Regions from separate parts of the Homo sapiens genome. Here region 1 is linked to region 2. The links come from fine-mapping of genetic effects on gene expression. A gene starts in region 2. The other region holds a variant in brackets. All regions are shown on one strand. Distances are from middle to middle.

The links. PIP is the estimated chance that this variant, and not a neighbour inherited with it, causes the effect.
Region 1: its variant is fine-mapped to the expression of AUP1 in esophagus muscle (GTEx, PIP above 0.99). The same link has a PIP of 0.9 or more in sun-exposed skin and testis.

What each region holds. Positions count from the first base shown.
Region 1 is chr2:74,724,300-74,739,057 of GRCh38, forward strand. The region is part of intron 2 of LOC102724497 (a long non-coding RNA gene); the gene reads left to right. Among named protein-coding and RNA genes, the nearest start is that of SEMA4F, 77 kb to the left of the region's middle. The variant A/G (reference allele first, on the strand shown) is at 5,928.
Region 2 is chr2:74,521,263-74,536,020 of GRCh38, forward strand. AUP1 (AUP1 lipid droplet regulating VLDL assembly factor) reads right to left here and starts at 8,444. Exons shown (of 12, transcript NM_181575.5): 1 at 8,318-8,444; 2 at 8,100-8,237; 3 at 7,870-8,020; 4 at 7,489-7,673; 5 at 7,155-7,227; 6 at 6,986-7,059; 7 at 6,678-6,744; 8 at 6,474-6,576; 9 at 6,209-6,328; 10 at 5,986-6,101; 11 at 5,679-5,797; 12 at 5,390-5,574. The coding sequence starts at 8,367. The coding sequence ends at 5,538. It overlaps DQX1 (DEAQ-box RNA dependent ATPase 1), which reads right to left and starts at 4,969. Exons shown (of 12, transcript NM_133637.3): 1 at 4,874-4,969; 2 at 4,231-4,486; 3 at 3,747-3,940; 4 at 2,661-3,045; 5 at 2,048-2,275; 6 at 1,857-1,956; 7 at 1,594-1,752; 8 at 1,318-1,509. The coding sequence starts at 4,467. HTRA2 (HtrA serine peptidase 2) reads left to right here and starts at 8,671. Exons shown (of 8, transcript NM_013247.5): 1 at 8,671-9,250; 2 at 9,355-9,559; 3 at 9,649-9,843; 4 at 10,077-10,109; 5 at 10,335-10,440; 6 at 10,594-10,663; 7 at 11,357-11,452; 8 at 11,558-12,057. The coding sequence starts at 8,745. The coding sequence ends at 11,723. It overlaps LOXL3 (lysyl oxidase like 3), which reads right to left. Exons shown (of 14, transcript NM_032603.5): 7 at 14,734-14,758; 8 at 14,326-14,493; 9 at 14,030-14,192; 10 at 13,269-13,512; 11 at 13,054-13,169; 12 at 12,838-12,974; 13 at 12,620-12,731; 14 at 10,996-12,417. The coding sequence ends at 12,344. RefSeq lists enhancers at 5,067-5,236, 7,888-8,717, 7,890-8,772, 9,228-9,357, 9,378-9,447 and 2 more and a silencer at 8,748-8,837.

The sequences.
Region 1 (14,758 bases), 200 kb after region 2:
ATGGCATGAGACGCTTAGGCTTCTACAGCTCCTTCCTCACTCTACGCAGCCAGGTGATTGTCTGCTCTGCCAGGGCACTGGGGCGAATGTCTTCTCTGCAGAGGCTGACTGAAGAGGCCAGGGAATTGGGGACTCAGTATGGCAGAGGGCAGAGCAGAAGCACTGTATTTGAAGAGCGGTATTAAGTAAAAGTTCACAAGCCAAGCAGGCTCCCCTCCTTACAGTTCACCGTCATCAGGAATACCTAAGACAAGAAACACAGTCACTTCTATCTGGAGAAACTGACAAGTCTAAAAGAAAATACTGACAGAAAGGACTCATCAACAAAATCGCTGGGTCCCCACCTAATCATCCTATAGCAAGGCAAGACCTGACAATCAACAAACCCTGCTCACATGCACTGAACTATCAGTCGGCCTTTTGGTTTCTCACTTTCACATATGAGTGAACAGTCATGGATCACCAGAGACCACAACAAACAAAAAACACAGGAAAAAAAGGAAAGTCCTAAAGTCCAGAGAGAAGCACAAAAAAGAAAAATTGGATACATATAAAGGAGTGAGAGGCCGAGTAACATAAGACTTTTCAATAGCAACTTGAGGAATTAAAAGCCCATGGAACAATACCTTTGATATACTGAGGAGAGTAGTTTGAATTTAGATTTTTCTTACACAGACAAACCATCCATAAAGTCTTACAGTAGACAAATTCGGACATGCAAAATGCTTATATCCTGTGCATTCGTTCTCAGAAAGATACTGGAGAATGTGAGCCTCAAAAATGATTAAACCAGGAAAGAGGAAGATTGAGATCTGGGAAATATGGGATTCAACACAGGAGAGGACATTCAGAATAATGCTGGGGAAGGGAAGTTCCAGAACAGCTGTGTAGCAGGCCTCAAGAAGAAACAATCCAGTCTGCAGTAGGAGAGGTACAGGGCTCCATGGGGAAGGAAAACAAAATAATAGATGGATCATCAGATACATATGAATATGTGGAAAACTGTATCAAGAGGCTGTTAGAGAATAGGGGAAGAAGTAATCTTAGAAACAAAGAAGCTAAACATGAAAATACAAGAGGACAGAGGACTGCACTGAAGCATCTAGTCATGAAAAAAAATGAGCTGATAGGTTCCTGATGTGTTTGACTGTATTGAGAGGAGTGTTATGTGAGAATTTGGGGAATGAAATTGAGATGAAGAAAGATAAGCAATTATTAAATCCTGGAAAAACAGAAAGTTGTGTAAGAAAGGAAATGTAATCATTGCACACCATATGACTCAGCGGCAAATAATATTCTATATTAAAAATAATGTAAAGAATAATATAAATTTAAACAAAAATGGAAATATAACTATATTGGGAAGATTAGTGCAGGAAAATTGAGTGTGTGTGTTTCAGTTATTACACTGTTTCTCAGCCATAAGCTCACCTTTTTACACTCTGCTCTGTGATGCTGGGGCTGGAACGCTGCAAACCACATTTCTTCTTTGCTGGCTGTCTTCATGTTAGGCTCTGTCAGTATGGAAATTAGAGGGATGCTGCAGAGTTGGAGGAGGAAGACAGAAAGAACATCTTCCTGTCTGCTTACTTCTCTCTCAATGTTCATTCATTCATTTATTCAACAAATATTTATTTAAAGACTGTTGTCTGGCCCAGCACTATTCTAGGTGTTTACCTTCCAGTAGGGAAAGAGAAATAATAAACAATATACATAATAAATAGATAAATAAAGTATATGGCATTATGTGGAAAAAAAGAACAAAGAATTAGAGTAAGGGACATTGGGAGTGCATGGGTGAGGTGTATTATAATTTTATCTTATTTTATTTTAACTTTTTGAGATGTAGTCTCACTGTGTTGCCCAGGCTGGAGTGCTGTGGCGTGATCTTGGCTCACTGCAACCTCTGCCTCCTGGGCTCAAATGATCCTCCCACCTCAGCCTCCTGAGTAGCTGGGACCACAGGTGCCTGGCTAATTTTTGTATTTTTAGCAGAGATAGGGTTTCGCTATGTTGGCCAGGCTAGTCTCGAATTCCTGACCTCAGATGATCTGCCCACCTGGGCCTCCAAAAGTGCTGGGATTATAGGCATGAGCCACCACAGCTGGCCTATAAGTTTATTTATTTTTATTTATTTATTTTGCAATGGAGTATTGCTCTGTCACCCAGGCTAGAGGGCAGTGGCATGATCTTGGCTCACTGCAACCTCTGCCTCCTGGGTTCAAGCGATTCTCCTGCCTCAGCCTACCGAGTAGCTAGGACTACAGGCACCTGCCACCACGCCCAGCTAATTTTTGTATTTTTTAGTAGAGTTGGGGTTTCACCATATTTACCAGGCTGGTCTTGAAATCCTGACCTCAGGCCATCTGGCCACCTCAGCCTCCCATAGTGCTGGGATTATAGGTGTGAACCATTGTGCCCAGGCTATTTTTAATTTTAATTAATTAATTATTATTATTATTTTGAGGCAAAGTCTTGCTCTGTCACCCAGGCTGGAGTGCAGTGGAGTGATCATAGCTTACTGAAGTCCTTCCTGGACTCAAGTGATCTTCCTGCACCAGCCCCCCAAGTAGCTAGCACTACAGTAGGTGTGCACCCCCGTGCCTGGCTGTTTATTTTTTTTGTAGCGATGCAGTCTTACTATGTTGCCTAAGCTGATCTTGAACCCCTGGCTTCAAGCAGTCCTCTCACCTTAGCCTCCTGAAGTATTGGAATTACAGATGTGACCCACTGTGCTGAGCCTTATTATTTTTATTGACACAAAATATAGCTACATATTTTCTGTGTACATGCAATAATTTATCCCATTCATATAATTTGTAAAGATCAAATCAGTGTAATTGGGATATCCATCACCTTAAATATCTGTTCTTTATGCTTTTCTTTCTGATCACTTTGGTTAGTATGAACATTTTAACAATGTTTATGCTAGAAACAGTTATTCTCTTATCACTATTTTGAAATAGACCATAGATTATTGTACACTATAGCCACTCTACTAATTTATCACACACTAGGTCTTATTTCTTCTATCAAACTGCATATTTTTACCCATTAATCAACCTCTTTTTATCCCTCTCACCCCCTAGCCTTCCTGGCCTCTGGTAACAACCAATCTATTCCCTGTCTTCATTAGATCCACTTTTTCAGTTCCCACATATGAGTGAGAACATATGATGTTTGTTGATTGATTGTTTCCTTTTCTGTGCAGAAGCTTTTTAGCTTGATGTAACCAATTTGTCTATTTTTGCTTTGCTTGCCTGTGCTTTTGGGGTCTTTGCTCAGAAAGCAAAAAAATCTTTGCTCAGACAAATGTCCTTGAGGATTTCCTCAATGTTTTCTTCTAGTAGTTTCATAGTTTCAGATCTTAGATTTAAATTTTTAATCTATTTTGAATTTATTTTTGTATGTGGTAAGAAATAAAGGTCTAGTTTCATTCTTCTGCATTTGGTTATCTAGTTTACCAAGCACCATTTATTGATGACACTTTTCTTTCCCCATTGTATGTTCTTGGCACCTTTGTTGAAAATGAGTTGTTTGCAAATGTGGGGATTTATATTTGGGTTCTCTATTCCGTTCTATTAGTCTATGCATCTGTTTGTATGTCAGTACCATTGCTTTGCAGTATATTTTAAAGTCAGGTAGTGTGATGGCTTCAGGTTTGTTCTTTTTGCTCAAGATTGTTTTGGCTATTTGAAGTATTTTGTGGTTTCATACAAATTTTAGTATTTTTTTTTTTATTTCTCTGAAGAATGTCTTTGGTCTTTGATAGAACCTGCACTAAATCTGTGGATCCCTTTGGATAGCATGGACATTTTTACAATATTAATTCTTCCAATTCATGAACATGAGCTATCTTCCCATTTATTAGTGTCCCTCTCGATTTTTTTCATTAATATTTTATAGTTTTAGAGATTTTTCATATCCTTGGTTAAACTTATTGCTAGGTTTTTTTTTGTAGCTATTGTAAATGGGATTGCTTTTTTTATTTCTTTCTCAGATAGTTCACAGTGGCATATAGAAACTCTACTGATTTTTGTATGTTGATTTTGTGTCCTGCAACTTTACTGAATCTGTTTTTAGTTCTAACAGTTTTTCAGTAGAGTCTAGGTTTTTCTAAGATCATGTTTTCTGTGAATAAGACTAGTCTGACTTTTTCCTTTCCATTTGGAATGTCCTTTTTTTCTTTATCTTGACTAATTACTCTGGCCAGGACTTCTAGTATTATGTTGAAAAAAATGTTGAAAGTGGGCATCCTTGTCTTGTTCCAGACCTTAGAGGAAAGGTTTTCAATGTTTCCCTGTTCAGTTTGCTGTTAGTTGTGGGTTTGTCATATGTAGCCTTTGTTATTTTGCAGTATGTTTCTTCTATATCCAATTTGTTGAGGGTTTTTATTAGAAAAATATGTTGAATTTTGTTGAATACTTTTTCATCATCTATTGAAATGATCAGGTGGTTTTTGTTCTTGGTTCTGTTAATGTGATGTATCACATTATTGATTTGCGTATGTTGAACTATTCTTGTATCCTGGGAAGAATCCCACTTGATCATGGTGAATCTTTTTAAATATGTTGTTGAATTTGGTTTGGTTAAGGATTTTTGCATCTGTGTTCATCAGGGATATTGGCCTGCAGTTTTCTTTTTTTGTGTGTGTGTGTCCTTTATTTCTCTTTCATATTGGAAGGATAGCTTTGCAGGTTACAACTATTCTTGGTAAGCAGTTTTTGTTGTTGTTGTTGTTGTTGTTGTTGTTGTTGTTTCTTTCAGCCCTTCGAAAATGTCATCTCACTCCCTGATGGCCTGTATGGTTTCTGTTGAGAAGTCTGTTGCCAGAAGAATTGGAGCTCCTGTATATGTTATTTGATTCTTTTCTCTTGCTGCTTTTAGGGATCTCTCTTTGTCCTTGACCTTTGAGAGTTCGATTATTATATGCCTTGGGGTAGTTTATTTGGGTTATACCTGTTTGGTGTTCTCTGATCTTCCTGTATCTGGATATTTATCTTTTCCTCAAGTTTTGGAAAGTTTTCTATTATTATTTCTTTGAGTAAGTTTTCTATTCCTTGCTCTTGCTCAATTCCCTCTTGAACACTAGTAATCCTTAGATTTGGTCTTTTGAGCCAGGCACGGTGGCTCATGCCTGTAATCCCAGCACTTTGGGAGGCCGAGGGAGGTGGATCATGAGGTCAGGAGTTCAAAATCAGCTTGAACAACATGGTGAAACCCCGTCTCTACTAAATATGCAAAAATTAGCTGGGCAAGGTGGCGCATGCCTGTAATCCCAGCTACTCAGGAGGCTGAGGCAGGAGAATCACTTAAACCCAGGAGGGGGAGGTTGCAGTGCAGTGAGCCGAGATTGTACCACTGCACTCCAGCCTGGGCGACAGAGTGAGACTCCATCTCAAAAAAAAAAAAAAAAAAAAAAAGAGATTTGGTCTTTTGAGGTAGTTTTGTATATTTTGTAGGTGACCTGTATTTCTTTTCATTCTTTTTTTTCTCCTCATTTCTCCTCTGTGTATTTTCAAATAGCCTGTCTTTGAGCTCATTGATTCTTACTTCTGCTTAATCCATTCTGCTGTTGAGAGCCTCTAATGAATTTTTCAGTTCAGTAAACGTATTTCTGTTTCAAGATTTGTGATTTTTTATACTTTATTTTATTTTATTTTTAAATTTTGAGACAGAGTCTCACTCTGTTGCCCAGGCTGTAGTGCAGCAGTGCAATCTTGGCTCATTGCAATCTCCGCCTTCTAGGTTCAAGCAATTCTCATGCCTTAGCCAACTGAATAACTGGGATTACAGGCATGCGTCACCATGCCCAGCTAATTTTTGTATTTTTAGTAGAGATGGGGTTTCACCATGTTGGCCAGGCTGGTCTCAAACTCCTGGCTTCAAGTGATCCTTCTGCCTCGGCCTCCCAAACTGCTGGGATT[A/G]CAGGTGTGAGCCACTGCACCCAGCCGCAAGATTTGTGTTTTAAAAAACTGCTTCAATATCTTTGTTAAATTTCTCTGACAAATTTTGGAATTGCTTTTCCATGTTATCTTGGAAATTACTGAGTTTCCTTAAAACTGCCATTTTGAATTCTTGGTCAGAGAGTTTATATATCACCATCTTGTTAGGGTCAGTTACTGGTTCCTTGCTTTGTTCATTTGAGGCAGTCATAGCACTCTACTGGCTGCCGTTTCTTGTGGATGTATGTCTATGTTTTTGCATTGAAGGATTAGTTATTCCAGTCTTCTTTGTCTGGCTTGTTTTGGTTTTTATTGGGTATGTTTGCTTAGAGATTCTTTGTAATTTATCAGTTGATTTTCTTTCTTATGTTCCACTGCTAGGTTGCTGCCTCCTTTTTGGCACTAAATGGTGCCTTAAGCCCGGGTTTGCCCTGGTTCTATTAAACAACCAGAGTACCACCAGTACTGAATGGGGTAGGTCTCAAGGGGGAATATCCTGGTAATATCGAAAGGCTGGTTAAGAGTTTATGCCCAAGGATATGTGGAACAAACCTACAGTGTGGTGCTGCTCTAATTTGGTGTCTTCTTTGGCTGAGAGCAGTTTTCACAGCTGGAGATGGTAGTCCTGCCTCCTCAGTTTCCTTAGGGTGATTTCTCCTTTCAAGCACTCCCAGTGCATCCTGTGGTTTGAGGCAGGGACAGGTCTCCTGACAGAGAACCAAGAGGGTGGGCAAGCTGGTTGTCCACCCCAACTCACTTTTTCCAGTGTAGAAACCATGCGTCAGGGGAAATTTTCTATGCATTTTGTGCTAGGCAGACTGGGGAAAGGGGTGTCACAGATATGGAAGTCCAAGTCTCTTACCATCTGCTTGGAGTTTTTTTCGCTTCTCTGAGGCCAGGAGAACTTTCTCATCTTCATATTTGAGTTATAATTTATTGCTAGTGATAATCTCAGCACTGTATATTTGATCTTGGTTTTCTTTGGGGTGAGTGAAGCCAGCTTGTTTCTACACCAGCTTGTTTCTACACTCGTTTCTGGTTCTGCCATTTCAGAACCAGAAGTCTCCACAATTTTAAATAGAGTGGTCTGTCTGGGTAGACTTTATTGGGAAGAAGACATGACAAAGAGAAAACTTGAGCAAAGATTTGGCCTTAAATGTGAATAGGCTTGGCATACTTGAGGAATGTTCAGAGAACAGTGTGGCTGGACCGAGGGAGAGAGGGTGAAAAAAGTGAGAAAGTTGAAATTGTTTGCTGTTGGAAGGAGAAAATTAGAAGCAAGGAGGGTTTGGGCAGAAGATTGCCTTTCATAAGTCATGTATGATCATTTCCTTTTTCAATTGTGGACATGTTAACTTTTGTAAAAATAGAGCTTAAACTTAAAAATTATAAATCACAAAATGCAATGTGATTTCCTGAATTGGAACAGAAAAAGAATGTTAGTGGAAAAACTGGTGAAATCTGAATAAAGGCTAGTTAATCATAATGTACCCTTTTTTTTTTTTTTTTTTTTTAGTTTTAGCAAGTGTACCATGTAATATAAGATGGTAACATTAGGGGAAACTAGGTGAGGGGTATATGATAATTCTCTGTATTATCTTTGCAACTTTTCTGTAATTTTTCTAAAATTATTCCAAAATAAGTTTATTTTTAAAAAGCCTTTAAAACAAACAAAAAATTGAATCAGCTGATAAAATGCTGCCTTTTCCCTTTCCCCAATTCCAAGCCTTGTACTCTTACCTGGGTTTTAGCAGTTGGTCATTATTAGGTAGGAAGATGTGATTTACCTATGGACCCGGGCTGATCTCCAGATGGAAGGAAAAAGGCCAGCAGGGAAGGCTCTGTATATCATATCTGTGGAGCATCCAGCTCACAGCTTCTTGGTGGGTGACATTCAGAAGCTGAGAAGCAGAAACCAAAACAGAGGCATTTATGCAGGGGAAAAACAAAACCAAAAACAAAACATTAATGTGTAATTCCCATAAGTTCTTAAGAAAGCAGAGTAACAAATATATCTTTGCAGGACTTTATTTCTTAATCTCTGTCTCTAGAACTCTGTAGTTATTTCTAATAATGAGTAGTTTCAAAGTAGAAATAATCCCAGATCCTTGATCGAATAGCTTTTTTCCTCTCTGCAGAGCTTCCTAAATATTTTTGGTGGGGGTGCCTGTTCAGGTGCTTCTGCAGTTGATGCTGAAATATTTCCTTATGTCAGTGCTTTCCATGTATAATTTTACATGCTTCAATGTATGAATTACTAGAAATGTGCCTTAAAAAGTTTTATATAATTATTTAGTATGGAGCTAGCAAAAAAAAAAAAAAAAAAAAAAAAAGGTGGCGGGGCGGGGAGAAGAAAAAAAAATAATGAAGAAAAAGCTTAATTTTTGGTAACTATTGCCTCCTACTCCCTCCCTGGCAAGTCTTTTTTTGAGTTTTGAGGAAATCCTTTTCTGCTCATGCTTTTTCCACATATTCTACCTTCATCCTCAATTCTTCTCCCTTCTCTATTGTTTAAGTTCTTGGGATTAAAATCCAGGAAGGAAAGTATTTTGCATATTATTTTTATATTTTGCCCCATGACATACCTCCTCTGAGATGGAGTAGGCTACTCCTTAAACTGGGGTGAAAGAAGAAGGGAAAAAGAAAATGAGAGAAAGAGAGAGAGAGAAAAAAAGGACATTTCAGCATATTATCCAGCCACATTCAGTCCACTTTTCTTGCATCTAGGAGTCTGCCCGATGTATTTTCTGGGATTGTTAGCAGTTAGGGGATGAACAGTGAGCACTCTGGAGTTTGTTTTGATTTTATTTGTGTTCTTCACGCCTTTTAAAAAATCACATAAGAAATAAATTTATTGCAGAAAACAAAAAAAAGTGATAGAAAAAATGTTAAAATAAATTGAAAATCACCTTTAATCTCAGAAATACAGAAACACTTATCCTCGTCCAAAATATCACCAACCACTCAGTGCCAGAAACCAACACACGTAGAGAAATAGAAACAAGGGGTGAAGCCCTGAGCGTGTGACCCTGCGGCTGCAGAAGCTTCTGAGACCCAGCTGCCTGTTCTTCTTTTGGCTTTGTGGTTTCGTGTTTTGCCCATCACATTAATTTTCTGTATTGAATGACACTCTTTTGGTTGTGGCAGAAACCCAAGTTGAATTTATTTATAAAAAAATAAATAGAAGGCTGGGCGTGGTGGCTCACGCCTGTAATCCCAGCACTTTGGGAGGCTGAGGCGGGTGGATCATGAGGTCAGGAGATTGAAACCATCCTGTCGAACACGGTGAAACCCCGTCTCTACTAAAAAATACAAAAAATTCGCCGGGCATGTTGGCGGATGCCTGTACTCCCAGCTACTTGGGAGGCTGAGGCAGGAGAATGGCATGAACCTGGGAGGGGGAGCTTGCAGTGAGCTGAGATCACGCCACTGCACTCCAACCTGGGCGACAGAGCGAGACTCCATCTAAAAAATAAAAATAAAATAAAATAAAATAAAATAAAATAAAATAAAATAAAATAAAATAAAATAAAATAAATAAATAGAAACAGGATGCCTGCTCAGATTGCATAAGTTTGAATACCAACTCCATGTGGTCTTTGGCATATTACTTAACCTCTAAAAGCCTCTGTTTTCTCATCTGGGAAAGGGTACCCATGTTCTCTGGAGATTGTTATGGGAATTGAATAAGATAAGAAATGGGCCTAGCACATGTTAATCACTTAATACATGGTGCTAGTCTAGCAGTAATTGAATAGTATGTGGTCACCCGAGTGGAGGAAGTTGTGTTGTTAGCATGTTATTCCTAGAGGAAGTTGGAAGGCAGGTAACAGAGGGAGTGAGGCAGGCCTTTTCTTTCTCACATGTGCACGCCCGTGAACTCCACCATGACCTGCTGTAAGAATTGCTGGTGTAGACAGCCATGCTGCTAATATCCTCCTCCACCATGAATACCCCCAGGGAGCACAAGAGGCCCTGACTGACTATCTCTTGACTAATGGTCAGGCCACGGTAGCCAGAGTCCAGGAAAATCTCAAACTTCATCAGTAATGAGGGGAGATTTTGCCACAGGTTATCTGAGGGAGCCAAGAGCTCTGCAGTTTGAGATAGTGGTTTCAGATCTGTGGAGTCACAAAAAGTCATGTAAGATACCTCTGAGAATTTAGGTTTGTTCATTCTACTGAGGGTAGAACTGCACATTGTATTTATGTCCTGAGCCCATCTTTTTGTCTTTTTTTTTTTCCAAATCAAATCAACTTTGAGGGGGATATTTAGCATCTAGTTAAAACAGCTTATGAAAAACCAGCCAAAGTCTGGTAAAAAAAACCTCTTTGGAAATGACGACCATAATCTCTGGTTTGTAGATCTTTACTGCTCTTACTAAATGTTCAAAGAGTTTTCTGGGTTTTTTGTTTGTTTGTTTGTTTTTTAGAGATTAGTATGCACACATGAATTAGGAAGTATTCCTAAAATCAGGAAGCAGGAAGAAAGCAGGATTGAGCAGAGGGAGAACTTGGCTATGATGTTGTTACAACGCCCTCAATGGATCCTATAGAGAGTGATGAAGCTAGACGTGACTTTCAGAGTTGTGCAGAGCTGGGGTGAGAAGGCCAGGCCTCAACCCCTCCCACCCCAACCCCCACACTACCTAACTGGATGGACATTAGATGTGATGTTCAAAGGATCTTAATGGAATAGTTGTTGAAACAGATCTGAGATGCAGTAAATTTTGGTCTGCAGAATCAAGTCAGCATTACCTCAATCAGAATTTGTGATGAACATATACAAATACATCTGGCTTGAGACAGCCTAGTTTGAAAATATACACAGGCTCAGAAGGGACACGCTGTTTCTCACCAAGTCCTAGGTTAGGCAATGCCACTGTAAGGTGATTGCTCCTCCTAGGCACCAGGCCTGTAGCCCAGGTAAAGCTGCCACTTGTGTGAATAGTGGAGGCTGGCTTTTGGACTTATGATCCAAGCAGACAGGTTTTTCCTAAGTATGGTTAACTGAGTCATAAACTATCACATCCTGTATAACCCATTTGTGTTTTTTTCTGACTAAAATAAAACTCTCCATTAAAACTGAACAGCAATTAAACGATTTCTAATCTCCACTTTACACACAAGGCAACCTGCAATTTATAATAAGATTTGAAGACACAGAAACATCTCTTAGTTTCCCACCTCCCCACCGCCCCCGCCACTGATCTGCTTCAATAGCTGGAAATCTTTGTTTAATCTGACTCCAGGTCTTTCTTTGTGTTTGAGAAAACATTCAGACTGCATCTTCTGTGGCTTCTCTATGTCCCAGCTGCAACTTCAAGAACCCTGATCAGTGCGATCAAAGTTGTAATTTAAAGCTTTTGGGAAGCCCAGGCTTTCTCTGTATTAGACAGTTATCAGTCCTCATTATCAAACCACTCATCCCCTTTGTTGCTCTATATAATAGAAAAAGCAGCTTCCTGCTCCCAGTGACTTGGCAAAAAATTGAATAAGAGAGAGAGATTATGGCCATGGCAGGTGTGCACAGCAGGGTCCTTCCCAAACCCCCTCTCCTCCGAGCCTTCTCTAATCAGAAGGAGTCATTGGTTTCCCTTTTCAAAGGAGCCTGTCTACTTGGCCTCATCCCAGGGTCGAGAGTAGCTCAATGATTAAATTCAGTGACAGAATGTAGCAGCTCTTCCTGCTGGAACCTTTCCAGACTACTTCCACCACAGCCATTAATTTCTTGAAATTAATTTTTCCTTTTATCTAAGCAGTACACACATATCTTTAAAAGTTAATGACAGAAGTCTCCTATGAAAAAACAGCAGTCTCCTGCCCCATCCACTCCTTTATTCTTATTAAGTTTTTTTCTTTGCCGTTTATCTCTATTTTTATTCTATTTGATATGTGCGTATCATTGGTTTGAGGCATCAATTTTAAACTTTATCTTTTGGCTTTCTCATGAACTACAAGAGATATAACTTTCTTTCTGTTCTGATTTCAGATTTATATTTTTTATATATTATTTCATTATATTATTTTATATTATAAAATGTTATATTATTATGACTATGTAAATATTGTTTATTGCAGAGCAAAGGAGTATATTATAATGTTTTATTTTTATACATTTTTGGATATTCCTAGGGTTAATAATTGCCTTTCCATCCATTTGCTTAAATTACTTGTTTCCTTTGGGTAGTATCTGAACATGATTATTCCCATTGTTAAATAACTTACCAGATAACTTTCCTGACTCCATCCTCTTGCTTCAGGCTGACTTGTTGCTCTTGGAAACAGCTGTGCAGCATGGCTCTAGGCCTTCCCTTCATCAACCTGGAAATCCCTTTTGACTCTTATTTGTGTTTGATCTCATTTCCTGGATCCTAAGTCTTTCTTTTTTTTTGATTTATTGACCCTCTCATTTTCATGGAACATGTTCTTAAATAACTATTCCTGAGAAAGAGTCCGTGGAAGCAAAGTTTTCTGAGATCTTTCAAGCCTGTATTTTTCCTTTGTCCTCATGCCTGACTGATAATTTGGCTGGGTATAGAATTTTAGACTGAAAATAATTTTTTTCCTTTCAGAACCTGGAAAGCAGTGCTTTATGTTTTCTAGCTTTTTCTGTTACGGTTAAGAAGTGGCCATTCTTATTCTTAGTTATTTGGATGTAATTTTTTTTCTCTTTAGAAACTTCTGTTCCTCCTTGGTGTTCTAAAATATGATCATGGCAGAAGTTATATTCTTTTTCTGGTACCTGATGGGCTCTTTTAATCTTTTTGTTTGAAGCATTTTTAAAAATTATTATTTGTTTGATAAATTTCTTCTCTCTCAAGTTTTTGTTTGCTCTTTCTAGAATTCTTATTACTTGAATATTGGACTCCCTGAATTGATCCTCTAATTTTCTGGCTCATTTTCTTTCCCTATTGTTTACCTCCTAGTTATTTTGTTTTGTTTTTGGGGAGACTCCCTTGAATTTACCTTCCACCCTCCCTATTGACTTTTTTTTTGACTGTGGCTATCATATTTAATTTCCAACTTCTCTGATAGGTTTCCTGTTTCTCCTCCTCCTCCTTCTATAGCATCCTCTTCTTGCTATTATCTCTCCAAAGAATACATACAGTTTTTCCTCTAAAGTTGTTTTTCTTCTTGTTCTTTTCTTCAAGTCCCTTTTCTCTGTCTGTTCTGGCCTTTGTTTTTCACCTTGGGGGTCTTTTTCAGATGTCTATGGATCCTTAACCATTCATTAATATTTGAGTCAATCACTAAGAATCTGATGTGGGCTCTATGGGCAGGGGTAGGGCTTGCTTCTGGTGATCTCCTTTGTAGGACCGTGGTTCTCAGTAGGGGCAGCTCCTGGGCAGTTTGGAAAGTTGTGAGGATTTTTAGTTATCACAGTTATTGGGGGGCCTACTAACATTTAATATGTGGGGGACAAGAATGCTAGTTGGATTGCAGGACAGTTCCACAAAACAAAGATTGTCCTGTATCTAGGGCTGCCACCTAAAATAAAGGACACTCAGTTAAAATCGAATTTTGGATAAACAACAAATACATTTTTTTGTATTAGTATGTCTCAAATATTATATGTTTATGGGCCAAATCTGGCAACCCTGTCTGTGTCCTATTCTATGTCCTACTGCACAGTTATGTGGGTGAAAAGCTCTTTATAATGATTTGATTCTTGATATCAGCTCTGCTTTATATATAAATACAAATACTTTTTTCACATGGATTTAACATACCCTGTGATTTTTTAAAATGCAGCTACTATGTAAATTGAGAGGAGACTGGACTTTGTTTTGTTTAGAACTTAACCAAGGGTTGTCACCATTTAGAAAAACATGTCAATGGCAACAGCACTGCTCATGATCAAATATGCAGATAATTTTTACAATTGCAAAAATTAGGTTTGCAATTGTCCCTCTTACCCAGAGGGGTTCCAATGCACTAACTTAGATCTTATTTCAAGATGGCAAATATAAGAAATATGACAAAATAAAATGAACAATGGTATCAACAATATTCAGTTGAATATGGTCTAACTTCTTTTAAGGTTGGACTGTTCATTGTAAAAAATGAAAGCATCTAACTGTTTCATTATGTCTCCCAGGTATGCTGCCCATGTGCCTACTTAGTAAACCATCTTGGGCCGTGAACTACTTTCCTTTTTTTTCTCCTTCGTAAGGACATTATAATTTAAAGAAAATAATGTGTAGGTTGATTATTTTAACTATGAATTTAATTTCACATAGTAAAAGAGGTATTTCAATATTTTTGCTTTAAAAAGAAAGTTGAAGGTACCTGCAACATGGTCAAATCTCAAAATATAATTATGCTGACTGAAAGAAGCCAGACAAAAAGAGGACATATTGGCCGGGCCTGGTGGCTCATGCCTGTAATTCCGGCACTTTGGGAGGGTGAGGCAGGCAGATCAGCTGACCTGATGATCGAGCCTGACCTCCTGGCTTGAGGTCAGGAGTTCAAGACCAGCCTAGCCAACAGGGCAAAACTATGTCTCTTCTAAAAATACAAAAATTAGCCGGGTGTGGTGGTGGGTGCCTGTAATTCCAGTTACTTGGAAGGCTGAGCCAGCAGAATTGCTTGAACGTGGGAGGTGAGGGCTGCAGTGGAGCAGAGATTATGCCACTGCACTGCAGCCTGGGTGACAGTGGGAGACTCCATCTCAAATGTCATATAATTCAATTTTTATAAAATTCTCGAAAATGTAAGCTAACCCTATAGTGACCAAAAGATCAGTGATTGCCTGGGAATGGAAACTGGGACAGAGAATGGCAATGAATGGCACAAGGAAACTTCTGGGGA
Region 2 (14,758 bases):
AAAAGATTTTGTGGTGATGGTGGTGAGGGAGTGGTTTAATAGAGCATTTGAGTTCAGTTCTGAGCTGAGGTACTGTTAACTATTCTGGTAGAAATGTCCATCAGGGGCTGGGTGCCGAGGCTCAGGCCTGTAATCCCAGCAGTTTGGGAGGCTGAGGTGGATGGATCACCTGAGGTCAGGACTTTGAGACCAGCTTGGCCAACATGGCAAAAACCCGTCTCTACTAAAAATACAAGAATCAGCTGGGCATGGTGGTGCGTGCCTGTAGTCCCAGCTACTTGGGAGGCTGAGGCATGAGAATTGCTTGAACCAGGCAGACAGAGGTTGCAGTGAGCTGAGATCATGCCATTGCACTCCAGCCTGGGTGACAGAGTGAGACTTTGTCTGAAAAAAAAAAAAAAGAAAAAGAAAAAAAGAAACGTTCATCAGGAGTTGGAGTATGCTCTCTCTCTCTCCCTCTCTTTCCCTCTCCCTCTCTCCCCCTCTCCCCCTCTTTCCCTCTCCCTCTCTCCCCCTCTTTCCCTCTCCCTCTCTCCCCCTCTCCCCATGCGTCTCTCCCTTGCTCTCTCTCTGTCTCTCAGATTCGAAGAATGGTATTGGGTGAGAGATACACGGCACAAGGTTTGGAAATTTTAAGGCTAAAGGTAGCACTTCAAACCATGGGTGTGGATAAACTTGCTCAGAGAGTTCAGGGAATAGAAGACAAAAGAGGCAAGAATAGAACCCTGAGGACCAATTTACAATGGATAAGAAGAGGACAAAGAGCTCAAGGAAAAGATAAAGGGGATGACCAGAGACGTAGGATGAAATCCATGAGGAGCAGCGTTACAGAGGCCTAGGGAGGAGGCAGTTTCAAGGTGGAGCGGTCAGCAATCTCAAGTGTCAAAAGAAGGTCATGAATAAGGGTTCAAAAGTATCCACTGGATTAGGTACCTGGAAGGTCACTGGTGAGTTGAAAGCTGTTTCACTGGCATGGTAGACCTGAAGCTGGAGTGCAGTGGGTGAGCAATACACCAGTTAGAACAGGATAGAAATCATGCTGCATAGCTGAAGGGGAGGATAGGGTTGAGGAAGAGGGGTGTGTGAGTTTTAGCAATAACAGATTAGGAGAGATTTAAGCATGCTGAGGGCAAGAACCAGCAGAGAAAAAAGGCTAAAGAGACAAGAGGGAGATGGGTGACTAAGCCTGGTTCTTTAGGCATTGTGAGGGGTGGCAACTGGAGCAGAGAGGAAAGGGCTAGCCTCAGGAGCACCAAAACCCAAGAGGAAGGGCTGAAGTGGTTTCAAGAGCTATGGATTTACAGCAGCGATTTATACCTGTGAGCATGGCAGCCAGGGTGAGCATCTCGTCCACACAGTCAAACTCGCATGAGGCCAGCAGGGCTTTGGCCAGCTCAGGGGCCAGAGGGAATTCTGATAGTATGACACCCAGATCTGACAGGTCCCCATCATCATCCAGGGCTGCCAGATAGTCTAAATCTTCCAGGGCTTGCATCAGTGCTTCTGGAGCTGGTGAGGAAACAGGGCTTACAGGATATGAAGTTTCAGAACTGGGTGGTCAGATGGCAGTGCTTGGGCAGGAGAGGTGCTCACCAGGCTGGTCCAGGAAGTGACACTCCCCTGGCTCTGCAATCTGTCTCCTTTTTAGTAGTAACACCAGGGAGCTCAGATTCTCCTCACACACCCTGGGTTGTGGCAATGGTGGAGCTTCTAGTTCTAAGAAGGACTTAGGATACAGGCAGAGGCAGGATCCTGAGGGGAAAAAGACCTGGGAAAGAAGACCACTGTAGATTTCTCAGGGCTTGCATGTTGGTGACTCTTGGGTTTTTTATTTCAGTGAGGGCAAAGGCTCTTACCTGGTGGGAACCCTCTTGCTCGCAATCGTCTTGCCTCTGCCTGACACTTGCTGATTGGCCTCAACACTTGGAATTCTGCTCGGATCCTAGGATTGTAAACCTGTTGCCCGTCCCCCAACCAAGGCCAAGACAGATCAGAGTGGGCCATTTCTGTCTTTACTACCCCACCGCTATCTCTCTCTCTCACTCACACTTCGGAGCTCCAGTCCTGAGTCGATGACATGTTGGATGGAAGGGAGGGAGAAGGAGAAGTCAGCCAGCCAGTGAGTGACCACAACCTTTCGGGCATCCATGTCCTCATACACAGCCTGAACGGCTCGTCCACAGTCTGGGTGAAGGGGCAGTACTCGTGGTGGAAGCCCTTGGAGAAGCAAGGACTCTACCTCCCTGGACAAGGATTCACAGCACAGGGAAATTTCCTGAGAAGAAGGGTGGGTGGGGCATTAGGGCAGTTCTCACGTTTTTTGGGGTCACAGATCCCTTTGAAAGACTGTTGAAAGTTATGGCCCTTCACTCTGAGAAAATGCAAATTACTCATAAAGTTGAAGGTTTTATAATTTCAGGGGTTCACTGAATCACAAATCTCTGCATTAAAGGGAATAAAAAAGTGAGTGGTAAACCTCTTTACCCTGAAATCCTCAAGTTTTTCTCTGGGACCCCAACGGAGAGTAAATACTGCAACTCTACTGTTCCTAAGAGGCATTGCTCCCATTCCCATTCCTCAGGACTGGAAGATGATGATGAGTACCTCCTTTTGCAGGCTCATTTTGCAGGCTGTTTTTTTTGTTTTGTTTTGTTTTTTACCTCCTCACTGGGCAGGAACACTAGCACATCTCCTGGAAGCTCCTTCCGACACAATTCAAGCACTGCTTGGCAGGCAGCTTCCACCCGATCAGGTGGGATGGTGTCCCAGTAGATGGGGGAAGGTCTCTCACCAGGCTCTCTGGGTATATGCACAATAGGAGGATTGCCCCAGAAAGCTCGGAGCTTAGGTTCAAGGGCTGGGTCAGTAACCACAACCACTCTGAGGTCCCCCGGAAGTTTTTCCAGCCTGGCATCTTGCAGTAGCCCCTGGAGTGAATCTGATGCCACCGACCGCTCCTGAGCCTCATCTAGTACCAGCACGCCCCAGGCTCCAGTGCCTCGGGTCGAGGCCACCTCCTGCAGAAGCAGCCTGTCCCAGCAGAACCTGTTGACATTGGTAGTGGGCAGAGGAATCAGTGTGGACACTGACCAGCCCCACAAGCTCAGGGAATCTTCTCCCCAAGGGACGTATATTTTGATATTGAAGGTCAGAAAAATATGCTGTGACTTCCTGAGCCTATGGACCCATAACTGTCACCCCACAACCCCGCTGAGAACACTTTGTTCACAAGGTATACGCCAGCTGGGAAGTGAAATTTTTCTGATGAGGGTGAGGCTGAATGTCTGAGGCCCCTGGCTGGGATTCAAGGGCTTATTTTAGCCATTGCACCACACACAATTTAGAGTGAGTTGGGGCCAGGCACGGTGGCTCATGCCTGTAGTCCTTACACTTTGGGAGACCGAGGTGGGTGGATCACTTGAGCCCAGGAGTTTGAGACCAGCCTGGGCAACATGGCAAAAAATATAAAAATTAGCCAGGCGTGGAGGTGCGCGCCTGTATTCCCAGTTACTTGGGAGGCTGAGGTGGGAGGATCACTTGAGCCCGGGAGGTTGAGGCTGCAGTGAGTTGTGATTGCACCACTGCACTCCAGCCTGGGTGACAGAGTGAGACCCTTTCTCCAAAATAAATAAAATAAAAAAGAGTGAGTTGGGCTAAGGGAGGGTATGGTGAGATGCCAGAGGAATGGGTTTGTTTCTACTGAATAAGGGGAATTATATTCGGGTAAGGCCTGCAGAGGCCCCCACCTGAGCAGGGTGTTGGGCCCCGTGCAGTCCTCCTGGGGGATGCTGTATCCAACCTCATGACCCAGGGTCAGGTCCATCTCATCAGCAACCCGCAGAGCCAGGCTCCGGGCTGCAAGAGGGTAGGGCTGAGTAACAGTAACCTGTCCTTTCTGGAACCCTCTGGCCAGCGCAAACTCTGCACACCACTGAGGGATCTGGGATAGAAGTAGGGAAGGAGAGCCAGTGAGGAAGATGTAGGACTTCAGTCAGAAGTGCTCAGGGAACTATGGCCACTTTAATCTTTCCTTATTTGGGGAGTCCCCTGGTCTTTCACCAGCCTCCAGGGCCAACCTAACCCATCCCATCTCTCTTCGTTCACCTTCCTCATGACCCCACGCAGCCCAGTCCCCCCTTGCCCAGGGAAAGGCCACTTTCCCTTTGTCCTCCCTTTGTCCTCCCTTTGTCCACTCCCAGAATCTGCCTGCCCCCACAACCCCCACCACACCTGGGTGCTCTTGCCAGAACCAGGCTCCCCAGACACCAGCACCACTCCAGTGGGGTTACTCTCCAACTGCTCCAAGAAGGTAAAGCGAGCAGCCCAGATGGGCAAGGCTTGGCGCTGCTTCAGCAGCTCATAGTAGCGGGAAGAGAAGGGAAGCCCATCAAAGGGGTTCACAGCCAGTTCAGACTCCCCAGGACTTGGGCCATACTCTTCTGCTAGCCTGAGAGGCTGAGAGGTCATGGTGGCTCTCTGGCAGGACCTGCAGAAGGCAGAGCAGCCAGTAAGGTCATATTTGGTGACCGACACCATCTTCCCACCTCAGCCCTGATCCTTAACCTCTACCTTCAGTTGATCATGCTCTGGGGCCCACCCTTCCCAGCATTTCCTGCCAGGAAACAGTGCTAGGTATTTTGATAAAGGGCTACTGAGAGTTAGTCGACAGTCCCTATAGTCAGGTAGTAGAAATCTACCTGAGACTATTACCCCGTTGGCAGGTAGTAGAAATCTTACTTAGGCAGGGGTCCTCAAGGGCAGTAGAAATTATGTGAGACCTAGTAACCTGTGGGAAAGTCCTGAAGGGAAAAGGATAAAGAATATAGGGGGTGGGGAGAGGAACAGCAGAGTCACAGGGATCCTGGATTCAAACCTGCTTGCAGCTCTAGGACGTGTCAGGACGGCAGTCAGCTCCAGACCCACGTAGTCACCACCAACCCTGACCGTGTGAAGTACAAAGGTAAATTCCGGCTCTACCTCAGGGATGGGCTCAAACTTCAAATCCTGAAGCCTGCTTTTGGGGTGGGGCTATTTGCTCCACCTTATTTAACCTAGTCAGGAACCTATGGAAAACAGGCTCCAGCTACCACACTGAGCATGTGTGAACTCTATAGATGATGTGTAGTGTGCTTGTGAAAGGCATGCTGGGACTTGTAGTTTTGCAGCAGCTTCCTCCAAAACCTGGGCTGATCACCCAAGCTGGGTCTTCAGTTCAGTTACACTTCCTTAATTTATCACTCATCACTTGGCATGAGGAGGTGATTTTAGACAGTTGCAGTCTGACTACCCCCTTCAAATGTACGAGAAGACTCTCACCCCCATCCCCCGCAGCCAAGGAATAAGGAACCCACTCACAGGGCTTTTGAGACCGAGAGAGACAACAGATGCCTTGAATGAAAACCATGAATTTAATGTGACATTGGGGGAGCCTCATCCTTCCCTTTTTACCACCCACCCATCCAGCCTGTTGTGAGTTGGGTGAGGGCTGCCCCCAGTCTCCGTCCTGCGGCTCTGGGTGCCATCCTGTTCCTTTGAGCTCAGTCAGCCTCCTGGGCTCGTCTCTCTGTGAATCTCCTGTGGGACATAGGGAGAGATATTATTCAGGCTTTGCCGTAGTAGCTCCATAATTCCATTCTCCAATTTGCCACATCCTATTAATTGTCCTCTAACCCCCTCACCTTCTTGCGTATTCATATAGTGCTTGCTTGCGCTCCTGCAGGCTCTCCTGCCGGGCCCAGGAAGACTTGGCAAATGTTAGGGCTGTTGGCTGAGGGGTCACCGGGCCAGAGCTGGGAAACTGAGGTGATCACAATGTCAGAGGGCTTGCGGAGTCATCATCATTAAACACGCATCGAATGCCTACTTTGCAAGAGAGGCACTATGCTAGGGTCTCAGGATCAAAAAAGAAAGGTCAGGGATAAGGGAGTACATAGCCTGCCCCCAACTCACCCCAACACTTGGATCTGACCATTTCCTGGGTCTCACCTTGGAGGCAGAGGCTGTGGGTAGGGACTGAGTTCCCTTGGTGATGTCTTCAGGCATGAAAGCTACGGCCCCCTCAAGCAGATTAGTGATAGTCAAGTCTACACAGCCAGTCTTGGCTGGGGAGAAAAGAGAAGGGAGTCCACTCCCTACTTACTTTCTTCCTTCACAACCCACTTTTCCTCCCTGTGCCCATCTCCCAGTGTGGGGCCACCCTTTCCCATACCCAGGTCTCTCTGGATGACACCCAATGGCACATGGGGCAAAACTTCCTTGACTCTCTGAGCCAGAGTTGCCAGTTGCACATCAGGAGAAGGACCAGGGGAGGGAGGGAAAGAAGACTGGGCTGTGGAAAAAGGAAAAAAAGAAAAAAGAAATTCTGGTAAGTAGAGAACTAGAAGGAGAGGCTAACTAGCACAGAAATAGGGGAGGAATCACAGTAGGCCGAAAAAAAAAAACCCCAAAAGCTGTAATGTATAGAGACCACATACCTGACTGGGGGCGCAATCTGGGGTGTCTTTGTCGCTTCATGTGCTCTGCTTTGTCAGCTGGAGTGAGCCGTGTCCCTGTCTGGCCCAATTCCTTGGCCACCAGCTAGGGAGAATTGGAAGACTGGAAGTGTCAAGATCTCAAGCTTTCCTCCCTCTCCTCCTAAGCAGGGACCCCGCCTCCACCCTGTCTGTGCACCCGACCACCTGTTGTACACGGAGTGCAAACTCCTCATTCGCTTCCCCTAGTTGGCGATGAACAGGACGAAGCCACCTGCAAAGAAACAATCCAGGGCTATGTTGTGGGCACCCAGGGTAGAGGCTGTCACCATTCCCCACTTTGGTACCTCTTTGCATGGTGGGTGGGAAAATAGTAAATACTGTAAATACTTTGTGTTGCCTCTGTGGTAGAACCTTGATATAAAGATCTACAAATGGACAGGGCAGAGGCCACTAATTCCTTGACCTTGAGGTGAGCCTCTCCCCAGCGACCAAAATGTGAGGACAGTTAATACCTTACTTGATACACCGTGAAAGGGACGAAAAGTGACCACAGCAGTTCTGAGACCCAGGAGGCATCTGACACCGTCTGAGGGGAGGGCATGAGATGAGGCCTAAGCCAGGGCCAGGGATGGGAAATTTCCCCTTCAAGCCCCAGAGATTCCCTGTTCAACACACACTCACCACAGAGACCAGGGGTCTCTGAACTTGCAGGGTAAGAGGTTGTACCACATCTTGGATAGAAAATGGCCAGGAACTAGAAGAGGAAGGAGAAAGTAGGATGGGAATCCAGCCAGCCTAGTCAGCAGCTCACACCTGCCTTATAACAGGCAACTGTCAAACTCTACAAGCACATAATTGAAGAATGAAGGGATTCAGGAGAAAGAACTTAAAGTGGACAGAAAGGAAATGAACTGGAGATGATGGGGTCTAAGGGCCGAAGAAAGTTGTAAAAACTCAAGGGCCCACAAGCTTGACCACCTACCCAGCTGGCGCCCCATACCTGTGCTAAACCCACCTGAAGCGCAGGAGCCCCTCCCGGCCATTGGTGGCCTCTTCCTCAGGGAATAGCAGCAGAGGAGTGGGGGGAAGCCTCGTGGAAGCACAGAATCTCTTGAGTGACTCCACCAACTCCCCCCGCCCATTCATCTCCATGAAGCCCCGAGACCAGCACACAAAGCTGGGGGGACTATTGAGTAGAGGCTGGGAACCAGGAGAAGAGAAAGCAAGAAGAAAAATATTGAGGAAAATGAAAAAAAAAACTGACATGTTGGGTAGAGGATCGGGGTTAGGGGTAAGGCTCAGTATCCTCCATGGGGAACGCGAGTGGGGACAGGGGGGCCTTCAGCTGGGCCCCAGGGAACCGCCCCGTGGCGCTCTCGGCCTCGCTCTCACTCACGGTGCTACAGGTGGTAAGCAAATTGACTATGTTGTGGTCGAAAGGTGTCACATGGTTGGAAATGAGGACCCTGACACTGTGATCCCGGAGTCCGGAGTCCTCCTGCCGGGCCACGAGCCCTAGCACCGCACACATGGTCCGCACTACGAATCTGGGGACACAGGAGGTGGTGACTGTGTGGCCTCGGGCCAGACCCAGCTCTGACACTCCCCGAACGCCCGCGTCGGAACCTGCGAAGGACGCTGTCTGGCAGCGCGCAGCTGACCAGGAAGACGTGGATCCCGAGAAAGAGGCGCAGGACGAGGAGGCAGAACCCGACTGGCGCGTAGAGCAGCAGCACGAGCAGTAGGAAGCAGTCACCCGGAAGCCTGGGGGCGAGAGGCGAAGTGGTCAGGCGCCGAAGGCCGAGAGCACGCGGGGATCGGTCTCTTCCCGCCGGGTCTCTTACCGGTGCGAGTCAAAGAGCCGCTCCGGCCCCGGCCCTGAGGGAAGCTCCATAACTGCTGCTTCAGGAGCGCCCGGCCGTCGCCGCCGCCGCCATTTTCGCGCCCGGCCGCAGGGGCTCTTGGGAAGGCGGAGTCTTTGGGCATCCGCCCGGGGTGAGGGGACCCGAAGTCCTGAGGCGCGCCGGAAGGGCTAGCGGTCCCAGCATACCCCGCGGCCCCTTGGGCCGTCTCACAACTCGCGTCCGGCGGAGACCACAATTCCCGGCATTCGTGGGGCAGGGAGGAGTCGGCCTCCCGGAATCCTGGTCCCGGCGTGCACTTCTGAAGGACTTCAGGTACCGGCGTGCCCCGCGTCCTACTGTCCGCCTGCTCGCGTCCTGGGTGCCGCCTCTGAGTAGGGCGGGCGAGGAGGCAGCCAAGGCGGAGCTGATGGCTGCGCCGAGGGCGGGGCGGGGTGCAGGCTGGAGCCTTCGGGCATGGCGGGCTTTGGGGGGCATTCGCTGGGGGAGGAGACCCCGTTTGACCCCTGACCTCCGGGCCCTGCTGACGTCAGGAACTTCTGACCCCCGGGCCCGAGTGACTTATGGGACCCCCAGTCTCTGGGCCCGGTTGTCTGTTGGGGTCACTGAACCCCGAGCATGCCTGACGTCTGGGACCCCGGGTCCCCGGGCACAACTGACTGCGGTGACCCCAGATACCAGGACCCGGGAGGCCTCAGAGAACTCTGGAACCCGTTCGCGCGCGTGGCTGGCGGTGGCGCTGGGCGCTGGGGGGGCAGTGCTGTTGTTGTTGTGGGGCGGGGGTCGGGGTCCTCCGGCCGTCCTCGCCGCCGTCCCTAGCCCGCCGCCCGCTTCTCCCCGGAGTCAGTACAACTTCATCGCAGATGTGGTGGAGAAGACAGCACCTGCCGTGGTCTATATCGAGATCCTGGACCGGTAATGGTGGGGGTAGACCGGGAGGCACTGAAGCCACAGGCTGGAGGGCGGGCGGGTAGGAGGGGTCAGAGCCTCCTCTTATCTGTGCTTTCCCTCCATTTCAGGCACCCTTTCTTGGGCCGCGAGGTCCCTATCTCGAACGGCTCAGGATTCGTGGTGGCTGCCGATGGGCTCATTGTCACCAACGCCCATGTGGTGGCTGATCGGCGCAGAGTCCGTGTGAGACTGCTAAGCGGCGACACGTATGAGGCCGTGGTCACAGCTGTGGATCCCGTGGCAGACATCGCAACGCTGAGGATTCAGACTAAGGTGGGGGCTGGGGTAGGCCAGGTCTGGTTGGAGCTGCTTATTTGCTCGCATCTTCAGATGACAGGTCTCTTTTACCCATTCTCCCTTAGGAGCCTCTCCCCACGCTGCCTCTGGGACGCTCAGCTGATGTCCGGCAAGGGGAGTTTGTTGTTGCCATGGGAAGTCCCTTTGCACTGCAGAACACGATCACATCCGGCATTGTTAGCTCTGCTCAGCGTCCAGCCAGAGACCTGGGACTCCCCCAAACCAATGTGGAATACATTCAAACTGATGCAGCTATTGATGTGCGTCCTGATAGGAGAGAAATGACAAATGATGGGGGAGGGGGGAGAGGCTGTGTGGTACAAGCACCAACTGATATATGGTGGATGAGCCTATATAGAGCTTAGGCTGCAAAAATGTGGCCACTTATTCATGGGCTGAGAAAGAAGAGAATTTGGAGAAAGTACCTACATCCTGGTATGCCCCCAGACTTAGAATCCCCAGATCTCTTTCATGTTTTCTCCTTGTCCTACAGTTTGGAAACTCTGGAGGTCCCCTGGTTAACCTGGTGAGTGAGACATCCTTCCTTCCAAGAATCCCTGCCCCAGGTCAGTGTGGGAAGGGTAGGTTTCCCCTAATTCAAGGATGTTTGGTCAAGTTTCTGAGCAGTTCTTTGTTGGCTATCTCTCAATATCCAACCAGATCTCCCCAACACTTGCTGGTACTTTTGTTCGGGTGCCCCCATCCCCTACTATTTGTTTAGGCTAGGGAACTGGGGGCTGTATCCCTGCAGGATGGGGAGGTGATTGGAGTGAACACCATGAAGGTCACAGCTGGAATCTCCTTTGCCATCCCTTCTGATCGTCTTCGAGAGTTTCTGCATCGTGGGGAAAAGAAGAGTGAGCCTGCCTTATGGGGAAACGGGTTCCTTTAATGTGGTGGAAATAGGGGAAGGGCATTCAGTGGGACTTCCTGGAGGGTGGTCTACTGGGAGAAGAGGGCAGGGAAGGAAGGATGTAGCTGGGTGGGGCTCATTTGTCCCTCTGTCACAGATTCCTCCTCCGGAATCAGTGGGTCCCAGCGGCGCTACATTGGGGTGATGATGCTGACCCTGAGTCCCAGGTATGAGCTTTAGGGACAGTGACATGTAATGTGACCAGTGTAATCAGAGGGGGGCACCTCTATTGAGCTTTGTTCTCATTTCTGTCTTTATCTAAGATGAACTGTGTCACACTTGAAATAATCACAAGAGCTGTCTCCCTTCATCATCTTGACTTTCTTATCCCACTCCACTTTGTACACCTGTCACCAGATTGATTTCATCCTGTTACTGCTTTGATTTCAAGCCTTCAATCCATTAACTTGGCATTTAAGGGCCATTTTCCATCTGTCTGTAAATCAACTTTCTAGACCTGGCTGTAATACCTTCCTATATGAATACTCAGCCAACCTGATTTCCTACTCCCATGTTTTTTATTTATGCTGTTCTTGTTTTATATGGTTAATATCAGATCCATCCTTTTAGGCTCAACTTAAGTTCTTTCCCCTTAAAGCTTCTCTTAGTATTCTAGAATGACATTAGTGCTATTGATTTAACACTGTTTGTCATTTGGTGCCCTCATGTGGTGTACATCTTTTATGTACATGTTGCACTTTATTGCTAGAAGACAGAAAGTGAGTTGCCATTGTATTTTGTAGTACCTAGCCCATGTCCTGTCCATATATTTATCAATGTGTTGATGAGAGACTTGAGGTGGAACTCAGGATGGGGAGAATGCCTGGGTTTGGCTAATAGGGTGATCTGTGTACTTTCAGCATCCTTGCTGAACTACAGCTTCGAGAACCAAGCTTTCCCGATGTTCAGCATGGTGTACTCATCCATAAAGTCATCCTGGGCTCCCCTGCACACCGGTGAGGGAGAGGCTGCAGTGTGATATGGGGATGGGCAAGGTGTGCATGTGTCCTTGAACTAGGCTTTGTACTCCTTCCTTTCTCTCTGTCCATTTTTCTCTATAGGGCTGGTCTGCGGCCTGGTGATGTGATTTTGGCCATTGGGGAGCAGATGGTACAAAATGCTGAAGATGTTTATGAAGCTGTTCGAACCCAATCCCAGTTGGCAGTGCAGATCCGGCGGGGACGAGAAACACTGACCTTATATGTGACCCCTGAGGTCACAGAATGAATAGATCACCAAGAGTATGAGGCTCCTGCTCTGATTTCCTCCTTGCCTTTCTGGCTGAGGTTCTGAGGGCACCGAGACAGAGGGTTAAATGAACCAGTGGGGGCAGGTCCCTCCAACCACCAGCACTGACTCCTGGGCTCTGAAGAATCACAGAAACACTTTTTATATAAAATAAAATTATACCTAGCAACATATTATAGTAAAAAATGAGGTGGGAGGGCTGGATCTTTTCCCCCACCAAAAGGCTAGAGGTAAAGCTGTATCCCCCTAAACTTAGGGGAGATACTGGAGCTGACCATCCTGACCTCCTATTAAAGAAAATGAGCTGCTGCCATCTTTTGTGGGCAGTTAGTCAGGTGCTGCTCTTTGTGGTGTGGTGGGCTCTGGTCTGTTCTGCTCGGTGCTGGGCCTGGGAGCAAAGATTCCCATGCTTGGCTACAGATACTGACAGCTGGCCTCTGAAGGAGGGTGAAAACTTCTGCTTGACAGTTCCACATCCATAGTGCATGGTCTGATGAGTGCGGTTGCTGACATGGGTTTCTTGGTAAGCTCCTGAGGTAATGGCAGCCTCAGACCCCTGCCATTAGGGGCCAGTGGTGGTTTGCAGAGGGCAGTGGCACTTAGATAATCTGGTTGCTGGTCTGGCCAGGGTAGCGTTCAAACCTCCTGTTGGCCTCTTCACTGAAGGCATCACCTGCAGAGTGGACAGGCAATTTGGGAGGCGCCCTGCACAGAGGGAGGGAGATAGATGCACTGTGGAGAAGGGTGGGTAGAAGTGGAGGGACTGAGAGCTCTACAGGAAGGTGGGAAGATGGAGAAACAAGCTATGGAAAAGAGAATGAACGTCTTTCCCTCCCATCCCCTAATCTTCCTGGGTTGCTCTTCCCATCAAATACCAATGTGGCAGTTGTGCACCCAGATTCTATGTCCATCATATTTGCAGTTACATTTCATTGCATTGTTGGTAAAGTCACTCTCTGCTACTTCAAAGTTTGGGTTGATGACAACCTGTGAGTGAGAAAAAGGCCACTTAACCCAGCGACAATCCTCGAATTCAAAGGTGTCTTTAACGCTCCCCCCACTCACCCATCTGGAAGCCCCAGACTCCAGGTACCTGGAGAATGTAGTTTCCTGGCTTCACATCCGTGATGTCAATCCACTGACAGTCAATGTCATGCCGGTAGAGATCCCAGCAACCCACAGTGATGCCTTGCTCTCCAAAGTTGGCACACTCATACCGCTTGGAGACATCTGGAGGGATTGGCATATGTCAGTGTAAGGAAAGGCTGTGCAATGGATACCATGTGGTTCACTTCAGTCCCCAACTCACCCTCCTGACACTCAGTGTCTTCGAGACAGAAACTAGCTTTGTGGCCCTCAGCCACCTTGGTGCCATTTGGGGTGAGGATATCATAGTGAGTGAAGATGTCCATGCTGTGGTAATGCCTGTGGGGAGAAGGGAACTTCTGTTTCCTTCTCTGCCCCCAGAAGGTTTGCCCCATCCCCCGTGGTCTTGCCCTTCTACTTGACTCCCTACCCTCTCACCCATGGCACTCGTGCCACACCCAGGAGTGGCGCCCAGCCTTGGGCCTGAAGTCAGCTCGTCCCAGGTTGTGGATCTGGGAGGAGAATCGGAGCAGACGCCGGTGACCATAGGGCCAGTTGGCTGAGCGGGCTGAGCTGGCCAGGCAGTTCTCTTCCGCAGCACAGTACAACATATGCAGGGGCCGGTCTTCGATGTAGGCGGTCTCCTGCACCAGTGCTGAGTGCAGCAACAGATCTGATGCAGCTGCACCAAGAAAGGAAGGGGGTGTTAGAAGTCACTGCTGACTTCACAGAGAGGGGTGCTTCCATCCCTCCCTAGTGTGTAAGACTAGTTTTTTGTTTTTGTTTTTGTTTGTTTGTTTGTTTGAGATGGAGTCTCACTCTGTTGCCGAGGCTGGAATGCAGCGGCGTGATCTTGGCTCACTGCAACCTCTGCCACCTGGGTTCAAGTGATTCTCCTGCCTCAGCCTCCCGAGTAGCTGGGATTATAGGCGCCTGCCACTGCGCCTGGCTAATTTTTGTAGTTTTAGTAGAGACAGGGTTTCACCATCTTGGTCAGGCTGGTCTTGAATTCCTGACCTCGTGATCCATCCGCCTTGGCCTCCTAAAGTGCTGGGATTACAGGCGTGAGCCACTGCACCCGGCGAAACTGGCTCTTTTATGGGGAAGAAGTGCCCCTCCAGATTACAGCCCCCTTTCCCTGCAAACGGGTGGCCCAGACACTCCCTTCCCTGGCATGCATCACCCCCTCCTTCACTCACTCTCAGAACAGATGACTCCAGCAGTGAAGCGGGTCCCTGTCCTCTTGCAGGTGATGTGGGTGCCATGATGGGCACACTGATCCAGGGACAGCTCAGTCCCTGTGCAGCGCACTCCACTCATCACCACCTCTGTTATATTCCCAGAGTCCCAGTACCAGGTCTCCTGGGGACATATGCAGATGTTTCTGTAAGGCCCAGGATCCAGCATCTTGGGCCAAGGGACTCATTCCTCAGCCCTCTGCCCAAAACACAGGCTTTGAGACAACAGCCTCGGCTCCCCTTTCCTTCCCACTCACCTGCAGGCCGTGGTTGGCGTAGCCCAGACCCAGTTGCCTACAGGCCACCATGGCCTCCAGGGTCCCCCAGTCATCCCCACAGATGAGGCCCCAGCGAAGGGGCCCAGGTCCCCCTATTTGCACCTCGACTCGCCCCTCATGTTGGCTGCGGCCCCCACTGAGTCGGATCTGTAGTGACACAGAATGGAAGCGCTGGAGAAAGCTTTGGGGTGAGGTAGTGGGAGTCTCTAACAGATGTGGCTGAAGCGTGACTCAGGCACATAATGGGCTAGCAAGTGATGGGTCAGGTGGGAGCTGCAGGAGGGCAGGGGCCTGGGGCAATGGGCTGGGGGCCATTGGACTGTAGATTGGAGACCAGACCTGGATAGGATGAAAGAGACCTCAACCAAGGTAGAGAGGATGACTGACCCTGGTCTCTGCCCCAGTGTAAGGT